Linked DNA regions of Homo sapiens. The protein of the gene in region 1 interacts with the protein of each later gene in a pairwise test. Each region holds a gene or a part of one and is shown in the gene's direction. Other genes may lie near its edges.

What was found.
Region 2: the proteins of LAMP2 (region 1) and ZBTB8OS interact in binary tests that used the Homo sapiens proteins (3 or more experiments, as listed by UniProt).
Region 3: the proteins of LAMP2 (region 1) and SERPINA3 interact in binary tests that used the Homo sapiens proteins (3 or more experiments, as listed by UniProt).
Region 4: the proteins of LAMP2 (region 1) and WBP2NL interact in binary tests that used the Homo sapiens proteins (3 or more experiments, as listed by UniProt).
Region 5: the proteins of LAMP2 (region 1) and JPT1 interact in binary tests that used the Homo sapiens proteins (3 or more experiments, as listed by UniProt).
Region 6: the proteins of LAMP2 (region 1) and FGA interact in binary tests that used the Homo sapiens proteins (3 or more experiments, as listed by UniProt).
Region 7: the proteins of LAMP2 (region 1) and LOXL4 interact in binary tests that used the Homo sapiens proteins (3 or more experiments, as listed by UniProt).

The regions. Positions count from the first base shown.
Region 1 is NC_000023.11:120,462,797-120,466,296, reverse strand, and holds part of LAMP2 (lysosome-associated membrane glycoprotein 2 isoform A precursor), read left to right. Parts: intron 1-3,500. UniProt on the Homo sapiens protein: Lysosomal membrane glycoprotein which plays an important role in lysosome biogenesis, lysosomal pH regulation and autophagy.
Region 2 is NC_000001.11:32,640,551-32,644,050, reverse strand, and holds part of ZBTB8OS (protein archease), read left to right. Parts: intron 1-3,500. UniProt on the Homo sapiens protein: Component of the tRNA-splicing ligase complex required to facilitate the enzymatic turnover of catalytic subunit RTCB. Together with DDX1, acts by facilitating the guanylylation of RTCB, a key intermediate step in tRNA ligation.
Region 3 is NC_000014.9:94,611,075-94,615,190, forward strand, and holds the start of SERPINA3 (alpha-1-antichymotrypsin precursor), read left to right. Parts: upstream 1-1,316; 5' UTR 1,317-1,373; exon of another isoform or gene 1,374-1,465; intron 1,466-2,272; exon of another isoform or gene 2,273-2,295; intron 2,296-2,961; exon of another isoform or gene 2,962-3,165; intron 3,166-3,359; 5' UTR 3,360-3,367; coding exon 3,368-4,010; intron 4,011-4,116. UniProt on the Homo sapiens protein: Although its physiological function is unclear, it can inhibit neutrophil cathepsin G and mast cell chymase, both of which can convert angiotensin-1 to the active angiotensin-2.
Region 4 is NC_000022.11:42,019,288-42,022,787, forward strand, and holds part of WBP2NL (postacrosomal sheath WW domain-binding protein), read left to right. Parts: intron 1-23; coding exon 24-132; intron 133-357; exon of another isoform or gene 358-374; coding exon 375-516; intron 517-716; coding exon 717-809; intron 810-2,961; coding exon 2,962-3,069; intron 3,070-3,500. UniProt on the Homo sapiens protein: May play a role in meiotic resumption and pronuclear formation, mediated by a WW domain-signaling pathway during fertilization.
Region 5 is NC_000017.11:75,134,748-75,137,512, reverse strand, and holds the end of JPT1 (jupiter microtubule associated homolog 1), read left to right. Parts: exon of another isoform or gene 1-1,262; coding exon 1,263-1,411; coding exon of another isoform or gene 1,412-1,511; 3' UTR 1,512-2,265; downstream 2,266-2,765. UniProt on the Homo sapiens protein: Modulates negatively AKT-mediated GSK3B signaling.
Region 6 is NC_000004.12:154,584,775-154,587,742, reverse strand, and holds the end of FGA (fibrinogen alpha chain isoform alpha precursor), read left to right. Parts: intron 1-85; coding exon 86-231; intron 232-824; coding exon 825-2,249; 3' UTR 2,250-2,468; downstream 2,469-2,968. UniProt on the Homo sapiens protein: Cleaved by the protease thrombin to yield monomers which, together with fibrinogen beta (FGB) and fibrinogen gamma (FGG), polymerize to form an insoluble fibrin matrix. Fibrin has a major function in hemostasis as one of the primary components of blood clots.
Region 7 is NC_000010.11:98,258,195-98,261,694, reverse strand, and holds part of LOXL4 (lysyl oxidase homolog 4 precursor), read left to right. Parts: intron 1-567; coding exon 568-773; intron 774-2,265; coding exon 2,266-2,304; intron 2,305-2,466; coding exon 2,467-2,686; intron 2,687-3,500. UniProt on the Homo sapiens protein: Catalyzes the oxidative deamination of lysine and hydroxylysine residues in collagen and elastin, resulting in the formation of covalent cross-linkages, and the stabilization of collagen and elastin fibers.

The DNA.
Region 1 (3,500 bases):
GCTTTCATGTCATTAAATTTTTTTTTGTTTTTTAATGAAAGCTTTTTTGTTTTGTTTTTACAAAAGCAATGCTTACTCACTGCAGAAAATAAACATGCAAAAAGAAGCACATAAAAGAACCCATCAGCTCATCTGCTAGTTTGCCATTTATTGATCAGGACTAACTAGATTCTTCCTCTTGGAAAATTTCCAAGATTGATTCCCTCCGCCTCCAAGTTCAGAGCAGGATTTGGAAAAGTAAATATTAATAATGTACCTAGATCTGATTTTTAAGAGGTTCCAGGATGAAATAGAAACCATTTTTCTATACAGCTGCATTTTCTGATGGCTCTTGGTTCAGTGTGGAGCCCAAAGTCCTCCCATATAGCTTTTTCTGTCAAGAATTTAGCAGTTGCTTGGTGGGTTTTGCACAAGTTACTTTTCTATATCAAAATGGATACCAATAATAGGTTTTTGAAAACTTAATAAATATTTGTAAAGTACCTAATATGTAGCTAAATCAATAAATATTTGTAAAGTACCTACTATGTAGCTAGAACTGTGCCTGGGTACTGTACGGAGTGCCAATGAAGGAGGACCTGTCCTAAATTTATAGTCTTATTAGCATTAGTGCTCTAGCTGTGCCAGTTTGACTTTGTAACTTTATAACTCTATCCCAGCTTCACCCATAACCTTTTAAAAACAGCAGCTTTAGAATAAGTACAGAAAAGGATTCTTAGAGGCTATATATTGGTCTTTTTCATAGAGATTAAATTATGCTGGTGTTTATTTGGATGAATTGTAACTGACCAGACAACTTTCCGAAGAGAAGCTATATGATTTAGAGGTGTTATAAAGTGGATAGTGGGTGAAAATCCTTTCTTTATATAATTGCCTAATTATGGTCCTTTTGTGATATCATAGATTTCAGGATTCTTCTGTGGTTATTGATTCTTATAACTAGCTTGACTTCTGTTTTTTGGTTTGTTTGTTTGTTTTTTTAGGGTTCAGAATTTTTTTTTTTTAGGTTTGAGGCTTTTCTGGGTGGGAAAAACCTCACAGAAATATTCTTAGTGTATGTTACTGGTAGGAGCCTCTCCCTTCCACACGTTTACTGAATGCCTATTGTGTCCCAGCCACTATATTAGGTGAAAGGGACAGAGGAATGGATAAGACAGATGAGGTTCCTGCTCTCATGGAGCTTACATTTTAATGGGAGAAGAAAGCTCAACAGATAAATAATATAATGTCAGATAGTGATAAACACTATGAAGAGGCCGGGCATGGTGGCTCACGCCTGTAATCCCAGCACTTTGGGAGGTCAAGGTGGGCAAATCACCTGAGGTCAGGAGTTCGAGACCAGCCTAGCCAACATGGTGAAACCCCATCTCTACTAAAAATACAAGGGCATGGTGGCCAGCACCTGTAGTCCCAGCTACTCGGGAGGCTGAGGCAGGAGAATTGCTTGAATCCAGGAGGTGGAAGTTGCAGTGAGCCGAGATCATGCCACTGTCCTCCAGCCTGGGGGACAAGAGCAAAACTCTGTCTCAAAACAAAACAAAACAAAAACACTATGAAGAAAATTACACAGGTAATGAGAAAGGAGAATGAGTAGATGATAGGAATGGGTGATGGTGGATGATCCTTCTTTATATTATGTGGTCAGAGGGCCTTCCGTTATCGGGTGACATTTGGGCAGAGACCTGGGTGTTGGCAGGAGGCCAGCCATGTGACCATCTGGGGAAATAGGAATAAATCTTATCATTTGCAAAATCTTAGGTTACTAGCCTATTTTCCACGCTTTTTTGTTTCCCCCTAGTTTTAGTCAAGTCTCTCCTATGGTAGCAGTCTCTAAGAGCAGAGACGATCTTATGTACTGTTACTTCCCATTGCCTACCTAGCATAGGGTCTGGTACATGGTTAACCCGTAGTGAATTTTTGTTGAAGATATTCATTGGTGGGCACTAGGGATATGGTGGTAAACTAGACTCATTTAGTCTCCTTTTTCTTCCATGAATTTTAAATGATGTTTTGCAAGAAGTTCTTTTGGATTGAAAACTTCAAGATCAGTGCTAAGCAGTACGGATAATTATACAGTAATTTACTAATGTATAATCCCATATAATAATGCTAGTTTCTTACCTGTACTCCTTCAGATATACCTCCGTAGTCTCGAAGGGGGTAATATGGAGAATTAGGAGTTCCTTGGTGAGGAGAGTTAGGTTTTCACAAAGTTAGGTTTTCTCTGAGAGAAAACAAGCACTAAGATTTTTCTATAGGCTTAACACATTTCATTTAACTGATAACTTTGATTTCGAGGTTCTGCCAAATTATTCTAGTTATAATAGAGATACTGTAAAGGACTGAAAAATTCTGAACCCTAAAAAAAAACAAAAAAAAAACGAAAAACAGAAGTCAAGCTAGAAGATAAGAAAGGACAGGCTTGTTAGTTTGTTAGTCATTGATTATCACATCTGATAGGGTTATAGATATTCAAATATGTCCCAAATACCAGATTAGTTTGTTAGTCATTGATTATCATATCTGATAGGGTTATAGATATTCAAATATGTCCCAAATATCAGATTGTCACATCTGATAGGGTTATAGATACTCAAATATGTCCCAAAAGAACAGCTTTCTTCCCCTATATCTTTGGGTAGATTTTGTCTATAACCAAGCATTATTTCGTAGCACTGGAGCTGATTTAAATGACCCTTGATGCAGGAAGGCTGCTCTTCTTTCTGTAGTGCAAAAGTATTCTGATCATAATTTCTTATTAAAGTGATCAGAGATCCCCTCAGACCCAAAAGTATACTTTATAAGTACTTGTTGGTATCCTGCTGTGCATTGTGAAAGAATTCTGGAGGTGTGCCAAACACTGCTCAACAATAAGCACTTTCCATTAGTTGAGTAGTGTTGAATCTTGTTTCCTTACCCACTCTTTGGCCTTAACAAATTAAGTCATTTTATAGCTTAAAAACATATTTTTATTAACTTTTAATACTCTTTTTCATGTGTTCAACATTCTTACTTTAAAATCATATTGCTTTTCTCCTTTAAGAAACTTACCAAAAGCAAGGGTATAAAGTAACTGAATGCAATGAGTGTACCTATTATTAGGAATTATAAAGGAGAAACAGTTAATCTGACTTAAACTTGTAGGAAAACCATCACTCTGAATAGAAAACAAAGATAAATAGGTACCGTATGCCTCTGTGTCCTGTATTTTAAAAAGACCTTTTGCTCAACATCATTCTAAATTCATGAGTTTGAGGACAAGAGTCCAGAATTTAATATGATGAAAGTAAACATAAAGCTAAAACTTGGGAAGGTTCCCTTTAGGTGCTGTGTTTACTAAAAAGGAGACTTGTAAATTGGTATCTAACTTGTTTGGCAAATTTCTTTTAGCTCTGAAGGGTTTATATGCTTTCAAAGAACCTATTGGAGAAATATGCACTATAATTCTAAACAAGGGTAACTTGCCCAAAGTCTCACAGCTAGGAAGTTGGACTGCCAGA
Region 2 (3,500 bases), on another chromosome or scaffold:
AACCAAGGTATAAAAGTTAATCAAGCCCCTTCCTTGGGGCCGAGAGAATTTTGAGCATTAGCCGTCTCTAGGTCGCCGGCTAATAAAAGACTCTTAATTTGTCTCAAAGTGTGGCGTTTTTCTAACTCGCTTGGGTACAACAAGGCCAAGGTGGAAGGATCACTTGAAGCTAGGAGTTTGAGCAACCTGTGCAACCTAGTGAGACCCCCATCTTTTTAATAGAAAAAGAAAAAAAAAAGTAAAAAAAATTAGCTGGGGCCAGGCATGGTGGCTCACGCCTGTAATCCCAGCACTTTGGGAGGCTGAGGCAGGCGGATTACGAGGTCAGGAGTTCAAGACCAGCCTGGCCAACATAGTGAAACCCCCTCTCTACTAAAAATACAAAAAATTAGCCCAGTGTGGTGGTGCACGCCTGTAGTCGTAGCTACTCGGGAGGCTGAGGCAGGAGAATAGCTTGAACCCGGGAGGCAGGGGTTGTGGTGAGCCGAGATCATGCCACTGCACTCCAGCCTGGGCCACAGTCCCAGCTACCTAGAGGCTGAGGCAGGAGGGATCTCTTGAGCCCAGGAGGTCAAGGCTGCTGTGAGCCATGATTGTGCCACTGTACTCCACCTTGGTAGACAGTGAGAACCCATCTCTTTAAAGAAAAAAAAACCAAAAACTAAAACAAAAACTAAAGGCCAAGTGCAGTGGCTAATATCTGTAATCCCAGTACTTTGGGAGGCCAAGGCGGGTGAATCACCTGAGGTCGGGGGTTCGAGACCAGCCTGACAAACATGGAGAAACCCCCGTCTCTACTAAAAATACAAAAAATTAGCCATGCGTGGTGGTGCATCCCTGTAATCCCAGTTACTTGGGAGGCTGAGGCAGGAGAATCGCTTGAACCTGGGAGGCAGAGGTTGCAGTGAGCGGAGATCGTGCCATTGTACTCCAGCCTGGGAAACAAGAGCGAAACTCTATCTCAAAAAAAAAAAAAAAAAGGCCAGGCACGGTGGCTCACGTCTGTAATTCCAGCATTTTGGGAGGCCGAGGCCCGCAGATCACCTGAGGTCAAGGGTTTGAGACCAGCCTGGCCAACATGGTGAAACTCTGTCTCTACTAAAAATACAAAAATTAGCCGTGCGTGGTGGCGCGTGACTGTAATCCCAGCTACTCCGGAGGCTGAGAGCAGGAGAATCCCTTGAATCTGGGAGGCGGAGGTTGCAGTGAGCTAAAATTGGACCATTGCACTCCAGCCTGGACGACAGAGGAAACTCCATTTGAAAAAAAAAAAAAAAAAAAAAGACCTAGAATTGATGGAAAGGGAATGTTCTGGTTAAGATAAAAGATTGTGGAGAACAAAGTTCTTTTGAAGTCCTATAGTGGCTGCCCTTAGAGACAATAGAAGACAAATGTTTCCTATTCAGATGTTAGTTAACATCTTTAGGATTGGGAGGGTCTGGAAGAAAAAGATCTAGCTATGTTAATAGAGATTCTTTACGGATGCAAATTCTCCCCCAGAAAGAACAGCTTTGCCGGGCCATTTCTTTTTTTTTCTTTTTTTTTTTGAGACAGAGTCTCGCTCTGTCACCCAGGCTGGAATGCAGTGGCACCATCTTGGCTCACTGCAACCTCTGTCTCCTGGGTTCAAGCAATTCTCCTACCTCACCCTCCCGAGTAGCTGGGATTACAGGTGCCTGCCACTACGCCCAGCTAATTTTTGCATTTTTAGTAGATACGGGGTTTCACCACGTTGGCCAGGCTGGTCTTGAACTCCTGATCTCAGGTGATTTGCCTGCCTTGGCCTCCCAAAGTGCTGGGATTACAGGTATGAACCACCGCGCCCGGCCCTGGCCATTTCAAAATATGGCAAAGAAACATGCTTTGGGGTAAAATATTTTGATTTTCTTCCTTGTGTTGTATCTTGTAATTTTATGCCAGACTCAGGTTAGAAAGTAAGTCACGATGTATAGGGTTAAATAAAATACTTCTGAAGAGAATTTGTGATTTGTAGGGCATGACTCCCCAAACCCCTTAGATAGGAATTTGGGCAAGATAAAAAAAAATCAGAGTTTAGTTGTCATAATATTCTATGTAACAAAATTGGAAGTATGTACAAAGGTTTTGTTTTGTTTTGTTTTGTTTGAGACAGTCTCGCTCTGTCACCCAGGCTGGAGTGCTGGAGTGCAGTGGCACAATCTCGGCTCACTGCAACCTCCGTCTCCCGGGTTCACGCCATTCTCCCGCCTCAGCCTCCTGAGTAGCTGGGACTACAGGCGCCAGCCACCATGCCCGGCTAATTTTTTTTTTTTTGTATTTTTTAGTAGAGACGGGGTTTCACCATGTTAGCCAGAATGGTCTCGATCTGCTGATCTCGTGATCCGCCCGCCTCGGCCTCCCAAAGTGCTGGGATTACAGGTGTGAGCCACCGTGCCCGGCCTGTATAAAGTACTTTTGTGGCATGTTAAGTGTTGATTACTTGTGGAAAAGAACAATAATTGGCCGGGCGCGGTGGCTCATGCCTGTAATCCCAGCACTTTGGGAGGCCGAGGCGGTGGATCACCTGAGATTGGGAGTTCGAGACCAGCCTGACCAACATGGAGAAACCCCATCTCTACTAAAAATACAAAATTAGCCCGGCGTGGAGGTGCATCCCTGTAATCCCAGCTACTCAGGAGGCTGAGGCAGGAGAATTGTTTGAACCCAGTAGGCAGATGTTTTGGTGAGCTGAGATCGCGCCATTGCACTCCAGCCTGGGCAACAAGAGCAAAATCTGTCTCAAAAAAAAAAAAAAAAAAAAAAAAAACTTGTGTAATTGAGTTGTGAGCTGAACTAGGTCCGTTTTTCATGGAACACTTTTTCTTGAAAGAATGAAAGACATGCTTTTGTTATTCAGACTTCAGTATTTGGCTTGCTCTATTGCCCAGGCTGGAGAGCAGTGGCACGATCTCGGCTTACTGCAACCTCCACCTTCTAGGTTCAAGGGATTCTTCTGCCTCGGCCTCCCGATTAGCTGGGATTACAGGCCCCACCACCATGCCCAGCTAATTTTTTTTTTTTTGTATTTTTAGTAGAGACAGGGTTTCACCGTGTTGGCCAGGCTGGTCTTGAACTCCTGACCTCAGGTGATCGGCCCACCTCGGCCTCCCAAAGTGTTGGGATTACAGGTGTGGGCCTCCACACCCTTGAAAGTGAACAGTGATCTGTCACATCAAGGAAAATAGCTGACAATATTTGTTGATAATGGTAAAATTCAAGTCCAGTTAAAATTTTCAGGCCTGATGAGCTTAATCTCAGCACTTTGGGAGGCCAAGGGGGACAGATGGCTTGAGCCCATAAGTTCGAGACCAGCCTGGGCAACGTGGCAAAACCCTGTCTCTTACAAAACATTAACTAGGTGTGGTGGTGCGTGTCTGTAGTCCTTACCACTTGGGAGACTTGAGGCAGAAGTATCACTTGGACCTTGGAGGTCTAAGCTGTAGTGAGCTGTGATTGTGCCACTGCACTTCAGCCTGGATGAC
Region 3 (4,116 bases), on another chromosome or scaffold:
CCTCCCAAGTAGCTGGGTTACAGGCATGCGCCATGATGCCCTGCTAGTTTGTTTGTTTTTTTTTTTTTTGTATTTTTAGTAAAGATGGGGTTTCGCCATGTTGGCCAAGCTGGTCATGGACTCCTGACCTCAGGTGGTCTGCCCACGTCAGCCTCCCAAGATGCTGGGATTACCAGCATGAGCCACTAGTCCCGCCCAGGATTTTTTTTTTCCTTTTTCATGAGCCAAAGAAAGACCCCAGACTAGCTAAGAGAGAGGCCCAAGGATACCTGAAGGCCGGGGAGGAGGGACAACCACTTGTTGGGGTGAACCAATCGCAGAGGCTCAGCAGGACAGAGGCCAAGGCTGAGGAGGCCCCCACAGAGAAACAGAGCCTGAGGACAAGGGGTTCCTCACAACACCTGTGCTCCCCGAAAGCTCCCCTCCACACCCCTCTCTAGGTGCCCTACTCTCTGGGGTTGGTGAAGGGGTGCCAAAAATGCAAACTGATCCACAGAAAAATAGAGTCCTGTATTTTAAAAATATATCTAGGTTTGTATATGGACATTCACATCACACAGACACACAGACACACATGCAGCCACACACACACACACACACAGAGACACCAAAGAAAAGTGCTTTAGAAATACACCAAAATGTGGCTGGGTGCGGTGGCTCATGCCTGTAATCCCAGCACTTTGGGAGGCTGAGGTGGGCAGATCACGAGGTCAGGAGTTCAAGACCAGTCCGACCAACAAGGTGAAACCCTGTCTCTACGAAAAATACAAAAATTAGCTGGGCGTGGTGGTGTGTGCCTGTAGTCCCAGCTACTCGGGAGGCTGAGGCAGAAAGTTGCTTGAACCCGGGAGTCAGAGGTTGCAGTGAGCTGAGATCACGCCACTGCACTCCAGCCTGGGCAACAAAGCAAGACTCTGTCTCAAAATAAAAATAAAAAATAAAAAGAAATAAAAAAGAAATATACCAAAATGTTAGCTGGGGTCTTCTCTGGGTAGTAAAGTGCTGGGGGATATTTTCCAAAGTCCTTCTTTACATTCTCTGAGTTTTTCCATGTTCTTCAATGAGTATTTAATAAGCAGATAAAAACTAATACAACAAAGGATTTTTTCTGTGTGCTTTTTTGACCTTTGGAGGAAGAGATTAGAGCTAGTCCCATAACCAGGTTATTTGAGTAGGTCTAACAAGCCCGTATTACCAGAAATTATCATCTGGTCATTTCCAGTCCGAGAACAGAACACTTGGTTGTCCTGGCATTTCCCAAGCAGGGGGAGGAGTTCTCTGCAGGAATAAATAAGCCTCAGCATTCATGAAAATCCACTACTCCAGACAGACGGCTTTGGAATCCACCAGCTACATCCAGCTCCCTGAGGCAGGTAATCCATGATGTTTTACATCCTGGGAGCGGAGGAATCTGTTTTTCCAGGAGAGTTTTAGGCAGCAGCCTGGAGTGTGTGGAGTGTGAGGGGTAAGCAGAGGCCAGGAGGAGGTGTACTCAGGTGTTAGGGGCCAGGGGTCTGTTCTTGGCTGCCACTGATTCCCTGTGCCTTTTTTAGAGGCATCCTCTGTGTCTGGGTTTTCACACCTGCAAAGGGTGGAGGTGCCCTGGGGCCTCTATGGTCATTTCTGCCTTGATACTTACAGATTCGGATTTGAGTCAGCTGTGCATCTGACCCTCAGGGAAGAGGTGCTGTCCCCTTGCCTGGAGCAGGGTGCAGCTCTCAGAACATGTGGCAGATGTGATTATTGCAGCAGGTCCCTCTGAGCAGAGGCCACAGGCCTCACCATGATTTCAGGGTCTCCATGGGGCTGCCTCGGGAGCTCCACTTCCCCAAAAGGACCCCTGGCCAAGTCGACAGATGGGCTGTGTCTCTGTCCAGCAACAGAAAAGACAAACTGCTGGGAAACAGCCAGCCCTCCAACTTGCCCAAACAGAAAAGACAAGCCTTTGCCCCTGAAATAATTCTGGAGAAAAATATTGTCTAACATTTATCCAGAGAAATGATTGCATCAGCCTGAGAGTGAACAGTTGAAGCAAACAAGGTGCCTCTGTCCCTGGGCTTGGCCAAAGGCATTTCCACTGGCCTCCCCTCCTTCCCCTCCTTCCCCTCCTTCCCCTCCTTCCCTTCCTTTCCTTCCTTCCCTTCCTTCCACTCTCTCTTCCCCTTTTCTTCTCCTCTCTCTACCCCTCTCCCCTCCCCTCCCTTCCAATCGCCTCTCTTCCCCACTCTTCTCCCCAGCACCCAAGCTGCCCCTTTTCTCTTCTGAATTCTAGGACTGAGTGGGCGGAGGCTGAAGGTGAATAATCTTGTTTGCTGCGGTCACCGGCTTGGAACTCAGCCCTTCCAGGGTCTCTTGTGCAGTAGCTCATGGCTCTTCTCTGGCTTGTAGTTTCAGGAAAGGGGTAGTATGGGAGGTGGTGACTGCTCGGTACGTCTAATATGAACCAGGTGCCTTCATCATTTATCTCACCTGAGCCACTTAACAGGTTGTGCAGAGACGGAAACAGGTTGAGAGATGTACAGTCACCTGCTTGCCAGTACACAGCAATCAAAAGTGGCCAAAATAAAATCCCAGTCCAAGTCTGGGAGACTCCAAAGCCCTCTCTGCCTTCTCCCCACTAAGAGGCCCTTCCAGGCTTATGGTGGACACAGACACCACGTGGCAACCTGGCAGGGGCAGAGAAGAACATTTGCCTTTCTTTGGTCTTGCTGCCAACCATTATCAGGGCCATCGAGGCTCCAGACACTGTACCAGGGACTTTCATTTCCCTCTCTCAGTCGACCCTCACTGCCACCCAGCATCACATCGTGGAGGCCTGTGGAGGCCACACCACGTGACATCTAGAGGCTGGGAGAGTCACTGTGGCCTCTATCTCTGCCCAGGGCTCCTTCATCCCTGGGTTCTACTTTGGTGGCAGTTGGGAGAATGAAGGAAGGGAGCCCCTGCTTTCTAATCCCCTAGGATGAGATCTGCTCACCAAGCAGGAGAGGAGCAGGCATTCTGATTGGACTGAACCTCGGACCCCCCATCAGCTTACAGACCGAGGAGCCAGGCAAACCTGGCTGCCCACTGGGCTCCTTTACCTGTTTGCTGTATGATCTTGGGCAAGCCCCCTCACCGCTCTGTGCCCGGCTTTTCCACTGCAAGAAAATGGCAACAATTATGGTACCTACCTCAAAGGGTGAAATGAAGCAGAGTGATGTGTGTCGGGTGCCCCAGAGAGCACCTACCTGAGGGAGGCTCCAAAGCTAGCAAGAGGCAGCAGGACAGGGACCAGGACGCAGGCTGGGTGGAGGGCAGTGGGAGGTGGTCGGGGCTCCATCTGGCCCTCTGAGACTTAAAGGAGCTTTGCTTTTCAGAGTTGAGAATGGAGAGAATGTTACCTCTCCTGGCTCTGGGGCTCTTGGCGGCTGGGTTCTGCCCTGCTGTCCTCTGCCACCCTAACAGCCCACTTGACGAGGAGAATCTGACCCAGGAGAACCAAGACCGAGGGACACACGTGGACCTCGGATTAGCCTCCGCCAACGTGGACTTCGCTTTCAGCCTGTACAAGCAGTTAGTCCTGAAGGCCCCTGATAAGAATGTCATCTTCTCCCCACTGAGCATCTCCACCGCCTTGGCCTTCCTGTCTCTGGGGGCCCATAATACCACCCTGACAGAGATTCTCAAAGGCCTCAAGTTCAACCTCACGGAGACTTCTGAGGCAGAAATTCACCAGAGCTTCCAGCACCTCCTGCGCACCCTCAATCAGTCCAGCGATGAGCTGCAGCTGAGTATGGGAAATGCCATGTTTGTCAAAGAGCAACTCAGTCTGCTGGACAGGTTCACGGAGGATGCCAAGAGGCTGTATGGCTCCGAGGCCTTTGCCACTGACTTTCAGGACTCAGCTGCAGCTAAGAAGCTCATCAACGACTACGTGAAGAATGGAACTAGGGGGAAAATCACAGATCTGATCAAGGACCTTGACTCGCAGACAATGATGGTCCTGGTGAATTACATCTTCTTTAAAGGTGAGTGTGCCTGGCTTGGGGTTCAGAAGAGGTGGATCTCAGGGCCATTTCTGTCCTGACTCAACAATGGTGTTATTAGGCAAACCACTGTAGAGGAGAGTGCCCA
Region 4 (3,500 bases), on another chromosome or scaffold:
CGTCTGTTCCTCATTTTCTACAGTCTCTTGAAGCGGTCTCCGAATGTGGAGCTCTCCTTCCCACAGCGATCAGAAGGCTCAAATGTCTTTAGTGGTAGAAAGACAGGAACATTGTTTCTCACTTCATACCGGGTAATTTCTACTTCTACTTTAATCTGCTGATTAACTCTACATTTGTTTTCCTTGAAATGAAGAAAACTTAAACATTGACTTTTGAAGTGTTTTTAAACGTGCGCTTTGGGATTTTCCACACTGAAGGGTGGTGGAAGAAAAGATGATGTTTCTCAGTTAGACCAGAATGCACCTTGCTCTTGTAAGTCTCAATCCATGGACAAATTCTGCATTCCTTTTCCAAAGTTTCTGTCCTTGCGTAGGTGATTTTCATAACTTCATGCTCCATCAGTGATCCCATGTTGTCTTTTATGATGCCATTTGATCTGATGACGAACCTCACTGTTGAACAACCAGTATTTGCTGCAAACTTCATTAAGGGAACTATTCAGGCAGCTCCATATGGTAAGTGTTCCCTCAGAAGTGTGTATTTTTTTTTCCCTCAAAATCTTCTAAAAGGTTTAAGATTCAAACTTGGCTCATGTTGAAATTCAAACAAAAGCTGCCCTACTTTGTCAGGTAGTGCTTCCCTTGGTGTTTGTGGCAGTCTTTCTGTTGTCAGCTATGCCAGTTTCTTGGTGAGTGTGTGCCATTTCTTCCCCCAGGTGGCTGGGAAGGACAAGCTACTTTTAAATTAGTCTTCAGAAATGGAGATGCCATTGAATTTGCCCAGTTGATGGTGAAAGCTGCCTCTGCTGGTAAGTGATGCTGATAAAGATATTAAGCACTTTGGGGTTTTTTGTTTGTTTGTTTGGGTTTTTTGTTGTTGTTGTTGCTGTTGTTGTTGTTTTGTTGTTTTTGAGACAGGGATTTTTGTATTTTTGTAAGTCGGGGTTTCACCATGTTGCCCAGGCTGGTCTCGAACTCCTGAACTCAAATGATCCTCTTGCCTCAGCCTCCCGAAGTGCTGGGGTTACAGGTATGAGCCACCATGCCCAGCCCACTTTGGGGTTTTAAGGCTTGTGGAATTAAAGCAGGACTTCTACTCAGCCAAGATTTGCTGGCCTTTGTGGCCAGGCAGTTGGTATTCGCACACATATTCAGCAGGCATTTCCTGGGCCTACCTACAATTGTCAAGTACCATGTTACAGGGTAGGAACACAAAGATTATTCAGTCCCTTCCTATCCTGAAGGAGCTTGCAATCTAGTGGGAGCTTACAGCCAGACACCCAGGTGACTAATTATACCTGATAGTCTTTTGTCCATTTAAACACTGACCTCAGATATCTACTGAGCGTCTCTTCCTTGGGTCAGGGAGCCCTTAGTTATTCTTTCTTTGGTGTGGCTTTTTAGTTTTTCTTCTCTCTGGACTTGCCTTTGCTTTTCTCAGGTTTAGTCCCCATCTTACATGAGAGGGGAGTAGAGGTACTGTCAAGACTTATAGCACTGATCTAATGGATGTACCACAGAACTCTTTCAAACTGTGACTACAAATAATTTTTTTATCTCATATATGTGTGTGTGTGTGTGTATATATATATATATATATATATATATATATATATATATATTTTTTTTTTTTTTTTTTTTTTTTTTTTTGAGACAGTGTCTTGCTTTGTCACCCAGGCTGGAGTGCAATCATGCAATCTTGGCTCACTGCAACCTCCACCTCCCGGGTTCAAGTGATTCTCCTCCCTCAGCCTCCCAAGTAGCTGGGATTACAAGTGTCCACCACCAAGCCCAGCTAATTTTTGTATTTTTAGTAGAGACGGGGTTTCACCATGTTGGTCAGGCTGGTCTCGAACTCCTGACCTCAGGAGATCCACCTGCCTCAGCCTCCCAAAGTGCTGGGATCACAGGCGTGAGCCAGCACGCCTGGCCGGTCCTTGCGATCTTTAACCCATGGCTTCCATGGCCTCTTTGTACAGCCAGCAGAGAAGGAAATAAAGATCTCCCCTGGGAAATTTTTATGGGCCAGGCCTGGAAACTGTCTACATTACATCTGGTCACATGCCATAGGCAAAACTCAGTGTGGTAGGCTGATAATGGATCCCCAGATATATCCCCATCCCAATCCTCAGAATCTGTGACTGTTACGTTATTTGTAAAAAGGGTGTTTGTAGACGTAATTAATTTAAGGATCTTGAGATGACAAGATTACCCTAGATTATTTAGGTGGCCTCTAAATGCCATCACAAGTGTTCTTATAAGAGAGATGCAGAGGGGAGACAAGACAAAAGTGTTTTCTTCGGTACCACACTTCCTCACATTGGTCTTTAATGGATATATCTTACCAACTTGGTAGAATCCTCACTTAGAAGTTTTTTCTGAATATCTGTTATGATTAGGTGCTATGCTAGGCCTGGAATAAGCACAGGCAAATGAGATACAATCTCTGCCCTTAAGACACGTGCCATTCAGGACAAGGGTCATATTTCTTTTCTTTCTTTCTTTTTTTTTTTTTTTTTTGAGACAAGGTCTTACTCTGTCACCCAGGCTGGAGGCTCCAGTGCAGTGGCACAGATAAGGCTCACTGCAGCCTCAAATTTCCAGGCTCAAGCAATCCTCCTGCCTCAGCTTCCTGAGTAGCTAGGACCACAGGCATGCACCACCATGCCTGGCTAATTTTTAAAAAATTTTTTGTAGAGATAGGGTCTTGCCATGTTGCCCAGGCTGGTCTTGAACTCCTGGGGTCAAGCAATCCTCCCATCTTGGCCTCCTAAAATGTTGGGATTACAGGTGTGAGCCACTTCACCCAGCCCATGTTTCTTTTTTATCTTGTGTCTCAAGAGCATTGTTGGAAACACATGTAAGGTGGTGATTAAATACTCTGTTAATTGTTTAGTTGATATCTGCTATATATCTGACTTAATTAAAAGAGTTCCTATTTTGCCAAATTTGTCTTTCCAGCTGCCCGAGGATTTCCACTTAGAACCTTAAATGACTGGTTCAGCTCTATGGGAATTTATGTAATTACTGGGGAAGGGAATATGTGCACTCCACAGATGCCTTGTTCAGGTAAGGTATGGCAGAGAGGTTCTTCCTGGAAGGTGGAAAATTATGCCAGAGGCTCAAAGATCTATCCCTTGCAGGCTTGCTCCCTGCAGGAGCAGCAGCAGAGCTTTAGGGGCTTGGAAAATGGTCACATCTGTGACTTTGTTTCCAGACTGAAACCCAGTGGCAAAGTCAGCAAGTGACTGGGCTTTGGTTTCAGGCTTACTTTTAATGATATATACAAACCTGGAACATACTTGGCAATCCTGTTAGTGGGAAGGGTCACTTCCTGTTTATAGCCTGAGCAGAAAATATATGCTCTTGCCCACTTCCTTGTTTCCATTTCACATAGCATAGTCATCATACCTGTGCCACACCCTTCAACCTTACTGAGGACTCGAGCCCTGGGTCCTTTAACAGTTTGTGTTGTTAAAGTCCACTGCTACTGAATGGGG
Region 5 (2,765 bases), on another chromosome or scaffold:
TGGTGGTGCGCGCCTGTAGTCCCAGCTATTTGGGAGACTGATATAGGAGGATTGCTTGAGCCCAGGAGTTTGAGGCTACAGTGGGCTGTGATTGAGGTACTGCACTCCAGCCTGGGCCACAGAGTGAGACCCTGTCTCAATATCCTCCACCTGCCACCCCACCCCTCCACAAAAAACAAACAAACAAAAAAACTAAAAATATGTATACTATTAAGCTCTTAGTAAAAGTTTCCTTTCATAGAAAATATAGAATTTTTGCATTCACTTTGCACTTTGAATCAGTTTTTTCCCGGTTTAGAAACAACCCTAATGAGAGACAATTCATTTGGAAAATTGGATGGGTTCCAGTTTTTTTGCTGTCAGAGAATTGGATAAATAGCCTATATCATGTGATAATTACTATAAAGCAATGAAGCTTGACAGTGAGGTGAGGGATTTGAAAACATACAGTTAATAAGCAAGGCGAATTACTACCCTGTTTGTAAATATGGATACATTTCCAAGAGTGAAAAAAAGAAGTTGATACCATTTATGTTAAATATAACCAAAACATGTTACATGTTATCTGGCTACATGTAAATATACATAAAACAAGTGGACTAGAAGGCTGCACAGGACTTGCAGTGGGACCTCTGGGAATAGGGGGAGCAGGATCCACCCGGAGCTGGAAGGGGCCGTAGAGCTAGAGTTCCCTGTTCTTATTTAAAAATCTTCATGTCCTTGGGCCAGGCGCGGTGGCTCACGCCTGTAATCCCAGCACTTTGGGAGGCCGAGGCAGGTGGATCACAAGGTCATGAATTCAAGACCAGCTTGGCCAGGATGGTGAAACCCCATCTGTACTAAAAATACAAGAATTAGCCGGGCATGGCGGCAGGCGCCTGTAATCCCAGCTACTAGAGAGGCTGAGGCAGGAGAATTGCTTGAACCTGGGAAGTGGAGGTTGCAGTGAGCCAAGACTGCACCATTGCACTCCAGCCTGGGCAACAGCGAGACTCCGTCAAAAAACAAAACAAAACAAAAAAAAACTTCATGTCCTTATATATTTGTGTAATTTAGAAAAGAACATAAACAACAAATATGGGAAAAGATGAACAATGGTTAATTCTGTGGAGTGGGAGCATGGTGGGTGATTATTTTGTTTATGCTTTTAGGTATGTTTCCAACCATCAAACCAAAAAAAAAAGAAAAAGAGAAACAGATCCTTGATCTTAACAGGAAATGGCTGTCATTATGAGTATTATTTCTATTCCCTGTTTTCATAGAAAATGTGGACACAGACTTGCCAGGCAGCCTGGGGCAGAGTGAAGAGAAGCCCGTGCCTGCTGCGCCTGTGCCCAGCCCGGTGGCCCCGGCCCCAGTGCCATCCAGAAGAAATCCCCCTGGCGGCAAGTCCAGCCTCGTCTTGGGTTAGCTCTGACTGTCCTGAACGCTGTCGTTCTGTCTGTTTCCTCCATGCTTGTGAACTGCACAACTTGAGCCTGACTGTACATCTCTTGGATTTGTTTCATTAAAAAGAAGCACTTTATGTACTGCTGTCTTTTTTTTTTTTCTTTTGAAGAACAGGTTTCTCTCTGTCCTTGACTCTTGGGTCTGTGGGCCATGGCATGAGTGTTTTCTAGTAGTAGATTGGAGGGAAAGCTTTGTGACACTTAGTACTGTGTTTTTAAGAAGAAATAATTTGGTTCCAGATGTGTTAGAGGATCTTTTGTACTGAGGTTTTTAACACTTTACTTGGGTTTACCAAGCCTCAACTGGACAGACCATAAACAGTCCACAGGCACCGTTCCTGCCAGGCCCCAACCCACAGGGAGTCTCTCCGCAGAGCCTTCTTGGTGTTGCCCTAACTTGCCAGTGGCCTTTGCTCAGAGCCTCCTCCTGTGACATGTGAACAATGAAGAGGCCTGCGCCTCCTGCCTTGCCGCCTGCAAAGCAAAGAAACTGCCTTTTATTTTTTAACCTTAAAAAGTAGCCAGATAGTAACAAGACTGGCTGGCTGATGAGCAAAGCCTTTGCTCTCACGCAGAGGAAGGCTTGGATGTACAATGAAACTGCCTGGAACTAAAAGCAGTGAAGCAAGGGAGGCAATCACACTGAAGCGGGTCTTCCTCCAGGAACGGGGTCCCACAGGCGTGTTGTTTTAAATAACCTGATGCTGTGTGCATGATGCTGGTGCTTGACCATGAAAGGAAAGTCTCATCCTTAAAATGTGTTGTACTTCACAATCCTGGACTGTTGCTTCAAGTAAACAATATCCACATTTTGAAACACTGTGTACTGTGTCTTCTTTTTGAGATGGTTTCAGTGTTCTCCCTGGTTAGATGCTTTTCTCTTTGTCACTATAAATCCTGCCTACTGATTGGAGGAGTCATTTGAAGTTAAATAGCCAGATGTGCCTGTAATTAGCTACTTGGGAAGCCAAGGCAAGAGGATGCTTGAGCCCAGGAGTTTGAGACTATCCTGGGCAACATAGCGAGACCTCCTTAAAAAACAAAATCTTAAAACAGATGAAGACCCAGAGAGGAGTGGGTTTCTTTCTGAAGAAGGCTCTAAAGATGAGCAGGTTAGACTCTTCTACCTCCCCTTTGTTCTGGGCAGTAACATTTTAAAGTGTTCTCCAAGACTGGGCAACATGGTGAAACCTCGTCTCTACCAAAAATAGCCAGGTGTGATGGCACACGCCTGTAGTCGGGAGGCTGAGGCAGGAGGATTGCTTCACCCTGTGAGATCAAGGCTGCAGTGAGCCATGATCGCACCACTGTACTCCA
Region 6 (2,968 bases), on another chromosome or scaffold:
TCCTTCCTTTCTTCCTTTCTTTTTTGCTGGCAATTACAGACAAATCACTCAGCAGCTACTTCAATAACCATATTTTCGATTTCAGACCGTGATAATACCTACAACCGAGTGTCAGAGGATCTGAGAAGCAGAATTGAAGTCCTGAAGCGCAAAGTCATAGAAAAAGTACAGCATATCCAGCTTCTGCAGAAAAATGTTAGAGCTCAGTTGGTTGATATGAAACGACTGGAGGTAAGTATGTGGCTGTGGTCCCAGATGTCCTTGTTTCTGAGTAGAGGGAAAAGGAAGGCGATAGTTATGCACTGAGTGTCTACTATATGCAGAGAAAAGTGTTATATCCATCATCTACCTAAAAGTAGGTATTATTTTCCTCACTCCACAGTTGAAGAAAAAAAATTCAGAGATATTAAGTAAATTTTCCAACGGTACATAGATAGTAAATTTCAAAAGCAAATGTTCAGTCCCTGTCTAATTCCAAAGCCCATTACATCACCACACCTCTGAGCCCTCAGCCTGAGTTTCACCAAGGATCATTTAATTAGCGTTTCCTTTGAGAGGGAATAGCACCTTACTCTTGATCCATTCTGAGGCTAAGATGAATTAAACAGCATCCATTGCTTATCCTGGCTAGCCCTGCAATACCCAACATCTCTTCCACTGAGGGTGCTCGATAGGCAGAAAACAGAGAATATTAAGTGGTAGGTCTCCGAGTCAAAAAAAATGAAACCAGTTTCCAGAAGGAAAATTAACTACCAGGAACTCAATAGACGTAGTTTATGTATTTGTATCTACATTTTCTCTTTATTTTTCTCCCCTCTCTCTAGGTGGACATTGATATTAAGATCCGATCTTGTCGAGGGTCATGCAGTAGGGCTTTAGCTCGTGAAGTAGATCTGAAGGACTATGAAGATCAGCAGAAGCAACTTGAACAGGTCATTGCCAAAGACTTACTTCCCTCTAGAGATAGGCAACACTTACCACTGATAAAAATGAAACCAGTTCCAGACTTGGTTCCCGGAAATTTTAAGAGCCAGCTTCAGAAGGTACCCCCAGAGTGGAAGGCATTAACAGACATGCCGCAGATGAGAATGGAGTTAGAGAGACCTGGTGGAAATGAGATTACTCGAGGAGGCTCCACCTCTTATGGAACCGGATCAGAGACGGAAAGCCCCAGGAACCCTAGCAGTGCTGGAAGCTGGAACTCTGGGAGCTCTGGACCTGGAAGTACTGGAAACCGAAACCCTGGGAGCTCTGGGACTGGAGGGACTGCAACCTGGAAACCTGGGAGCTCTGGACCTGGAAGTACTGGAAGCTGGAACTCTGGGAGCTCTGGAACTGGAAGTACTGGAAACCAAAACCCTGGGAGCCCTAGACCTGGTAGTACCGGAACCTGGAATCCTGGCAGCTCTGAACGCGGAAGTGCTGGGCACTGGACCTCTGAGAGCTCTGTATCTGGTAGTACTGGACAATGGCACTCTGAATCTGGAAGTTTTAGGCCAGATAGCCCAGGCTCTGGGAACGCGAGGCCTAACAACCCAGACTGGGGCACATTTGAAGAGGTGTCAGGAAATGTAAGTCCAGGGACAAGGAGAGAGTACCACACAGAAAAACTGGTCACTTCTAAAGGAGATAAAGAGCTCAGGACTGGTAAAGAGAAGGTCACCTCTGGTAGCACAACCACCACGCGTCGTTCATGCTCTAAAACCGTTACTAAGACTGTTATTGGTCCTGATGGTCACAAAGAAGTTACCAAAGAAGTGGTGACCTCCGAAGATGGTTCTGACTGTCCCGAGGCAATGGATTTAGGCACATTGTCTGGCATAGGTACTCTGGATGGGTTCCGCCATAGGCACCCTGATGAAGCTGCCTTCTTCGACACTGCCTCAACTGGAAAAACATTCCCAGGTTTCTTCTCACCTATGTTAGGAGAGTTTGTCAGTGAGACTGAGTCTAGGGGCTCAGAATCTGGCATCTTCACAAATACAAAGGAATCCAGTTCTCATCACCCTGGGATAGCTGAATTCCCTTCCCGTGGTAAATCTTCAAGTTACAGCAAACAATTTACTAGTAGCACGAGTTACAACAGAGGAGACTCCACATTTGAAAGCAAGAGCTATAAAATGGCAGATGAGGCCGGAAGTGAAGCCGATCATGAAGGAACACATAGCACCAAGAGAGGCCATGCTAAATCTCGCCCTGTCAGAGGTATCCACACTTCTCCTTTGGGGAAGCCTTCCCTGTCCCCCTAGACTAAGTTAAATATTTCTGCACAGTGTTCCCATGGCCCCTTGCATTTCCTTCTTAACTCTCTGTTACACGTCATTGAAACTACACTTTTTTGGTCTGTTTTTGTGCTAGACTGTAAGTTCCTTGGGGGCAGGGCCTTTGTCTGTCTCATCTCTGTATTCCCAAATGCCTAACAGTACAGAGCCATGACTCAATAAATACATGTTAAATGGATGAATGAATTCCTCTGAAACTCTATTTGAGCTTATTTAGTCAAATTCTTTCACTATTCAAAGTGTGTGCTATTAGAATTGTCACCCAACTGATTAATCACATTTTTAGTATGTGTCTCAGTTGACATTTAGGTCAGGCTAAATACAAGTTGTGTTAGTATTAAGTGATGCTTAGCTACCTGTACTGGTTACTTGCTATTAGTTTGTGCAAGTAAAATTCCAAATACATTTGAGGAAAATCCCCTTTGCAATTTGTAGGTATAAATAACCGCTTATTTGCATAAGTTCTATCCCACTGTAAGTGCATCCTTTCCCTATGGAGGGAAGGAAAGGAGGAAGAAAGAAAGGAAGGGAAAGAAACAGTATTTGCCTTATTTAATCTGAGCCGTGCCTATCTTTGTAAAGTTAAATGAGAATAACTTCTTCCAACCAGCTTAATTTTTTTTTTAGACTGTGATGATGTCCTCCAAACACATCCTTCAGGTACCCAAAGTGGCATTTTCAATATC
Region 7 (3,500 bases), on another chromosome or scaffold:
GCCCAAGCCAAACAACAGGAGCGGGCAGGGCAGGGCTCTGCTGCCAGGCAGCCTCCAGCCTCAGGACAGCTGGCCATGGCCACTGAATGCAGCGTGTTGTGATGGGGACTCTGTACTGGTCTAAGTCATCCCAGGGCTAGGGTTGGGGGTTCTTGTGGGCCATAGGATCCTGCTGTGGTCTCAAGCAGCTGGTCTATGCCCATCTCAGCTCTCTCAGGGTGGTACAGAGAAGGCCCTTCCATGCCCAGCAAAAGCCTCCCAAACTCCAAGGGCTCCCATCCTGATCCCAGCGGGGGCCAGATCTGCCTAGTTCTCTCCAATTTGACAAATTCGAGGAACTGAGGGAAAGGGCTTAGACAAGCTGAGGTTCTGCCTTGCACTTACTCTGTGGCCTTTGATAATGCCTCCCCTTCTCTGGGCCTCAGTTTCCTGGCCTGTTCAATGACCGGGCTGGGTGGGATGGTCTCGAAAAGCTCCAAGCCCCAGCCTTTCTGCATGAAGATCTGCAGCAGGCTCCACTGGAGGAGCAGGAGCCCCGAGGCCCACAGGTGACTGTGCACCCCGCAGGGCCGGCGGCTGGAGGAGGTGCGGCTCAAGCCCATCCTTGCCAGTGCCAAGCAGCATAGCCCAGTGACCGAGGGAGCCGTGGAGGTGAAGTATGAGGGCCACTGGCGGCAGGTGTGTGACCAGGGCTGGACCATGAACAACAGCAGGGTGGTGTGCGGGATGCTGGGCTTCCCCAGCGAGGTGCCTGTCGACAGCCACTACTACAGGTAGGAGGGCGGCTGGCGTAGGCCCCACAGGAGGCAGGGTTGTGGGGCAGGGACTGAGTGTGTGTTCATGTGCGTGCATGTGATGTAGGGTGTGTGCATGAGTCTGAGTGTGGACTCATGTGAGGGGCAAGTAAGTATGCACACAGGCGAGTGTGTGATGTGTGTGGCATGTGGGACCTCGCAGAGTTCAGTGAGTACTGACTGGCAGTGGTGTTGTCTGTGGCAGGACATCCAGCAGGTGTTGGGATTGGGGGAGAGAAAACAGGCCCTACTGAGGAATGTGCCCAGATTTCTTGCTTCACGGGTGCCTCAGAATAATAAACAGGAAAGTGAATAAGGAGGACCTTCAGGATCCTGGGAAATACCTAGAAACAGTCAGAAAACAAACACTGCACTCTCGAATTATGTAAACAGAATTAACTAGGTACAGAACGCCCCCCCACCCCCCGCCCCCGGTGAAAACAGTTGAACATAAAACCGCGTGTCCTTGGTTAAAACACTAGACTTTCCTGCAGATACTTGCAGTGACACCCACGTGTAGAGTTTAGACAAACTGTTCTGGCCTCAGCTCAGCCAGTGACTGGCGTTAGGGCTTTGGGGAGGGCCTCTGAGCCTCCATCCTCAATTCCACTGCGAATATCCCAACGCTTCCCTCCTGAATTTCCTCAGCTCTGATCAAGCCAGGCTGTGACTGGGTTGTGTGTAAGTGAGGCGTGGGGTGGGGCACCTGGAGAGAGGAGACATAAAAATATTCTGTCAGAAACAAGGCGGAACTGTCACAACTGATTGCATCAACCAGTAAACGACAGCCACAGTCATGGTTCTGCCAGATCCGTGTCAGGGAGGACTTGTGTGTTTCCCATCAAGTGAGAAGTCTCCCGTAGTACGTCTGAGTCATCTGCCACCCCAATCAGTTTGATCCTGCTTCCCTAAAGGGTTAGAAGGCCCTTGTTGCAGTGACTTAGAGGAACCCCGTTCTGAGGAAACAGGGGTGCTGGTCAGCCTCTGGCTCCATCCTTGGGGATCCTGGGATGCAGCCTGACTCCCCCTGCCTGGTAATTGCACACCTGGGTCTCGCTGACTTGCCTGCCACCCATGAGGAGGGCAGGCCTGATGGTAGCCTGGGTGTCTCTGGGCGGGCCGCCCCCACCAGCAAGGCCTTCACCTCCCACCTGTCCCCAGAGGGCCCCTTCTCTTGGGCCCTCCCTAAATGCTCCCCTTCCTCTGGACTTCGGAGAGGGCAAGCCTGATCCACCTGCCCCCACTCTAGGACTGGCCGAGGGACCTTGCTTGCCTTCCTTGTAAAATGGTTATTTGTGAGGTGGCCACCCCGTCAGGGCTGCTGTGAAGCTCAGCATTGAAATCAGATTAGTGAATAAGTTTACAAAATGTAAAGTCCTGTGCAAACTTAAGGACAACTATGAGGAACCAGGTGGCAGGGGGTGGGACTTCCACACCCCTTCCACCTCCTATCTGTTTTCTCCCATAACAGGAAAGTCTGGGATCTGAAGATGAGGGACCCTAAGTCTAGGTGAGGAGCAGCACCCTAGAGGGAGGAGGCAAAGGGGTGTGGCATGAAGGGCCTCTATCCCATCCCCTACCCTCCCCTTCCCTCCTTTCTACCTTGGCCTCCCTTAGTCCTGAAGCTCTTCCCTCAGCCCTTCCTCCACCCTCAGTCTCCCTTGTCCTCTAGGCTGAAGAGCCTGACGAATAAGAACTCCTTCTGGATCCACCAGGTCACCTGCCTGGGGACAGAGCCCCACATGGCCAACTGCCAGGTGCAGGTGGCTCCAGCCCGGGGCAAGCTGCGGCCAGCCTGCCCAGGTGGCATGCACGCTGTGGTCAGCTGTGTGGCAGGGCCTCACTTCCGCCCACCGAAGACAAAGCCACAACGCAAAGGGTCCTGGGCAGAGGTGAGCCCTGGGCATCCTGCACTCACACCACAGCTTGGAGGCACGGGCGGGACACTGCCTGGTGGGGGGTGCGGGGAGGTCCAGGACACGCAGGAGAGAGGAACCAGACTGGGAGGAGGAGAGTGAATCACAGAACTGTAGAACCTTGGAATGTATTTAAAAGGGATCATTTATAGCCCTACCATAAATGGAAAGCTGACATCACCCGCCTTGAATAGAAGGTGACCGTAAAAACAGTAATTAAATCCTAACTACATTCCACTGAGGGCTGGTACTGATCCTGAGCCTGCTCCTGAGCCTGCTCCTTTGTTTTAAAGAGGAGATGAGCAAGTGCTTATGAGGTGGTAGAGACGCCTCAGTGCCAAACTGAGATGCCCTCATGAGGTGGTACAGATGCCGTGAGGTGGTACAGATGCCTCAGCGCCACACTGAGATGGCCTCGTGAGGTGGTACAGACACCTTAGTGCCACACTGAGATGGCCTCGTGAGGTGGTACAGATACCTTAGTGCCACACTGAGATAGCCTCGTGAGGTGGTACAGACACCTTAGTGCCACACTGAGATGGCCTTGTGAGGTGGTACAGATGCCTTAGCGCCACACTTGAGACGGCATCCTTGATGAGGCTGTGGGGGTGATTGGTCATTGAAGAAATGGAGATCAAGAAAAACAGCTTATTCAGGGTGACAGCTATGGGAAGTCAGAAGCAGGACTGGAACTCCCCATCCTTGGCTCTGGCCACCGCCATGGAACTTGAAGGAGCCCCGTTGGGGATCCCGCTGTGGGGGCTCAGCCCCTGCTGGTGCCTCCTCCTCA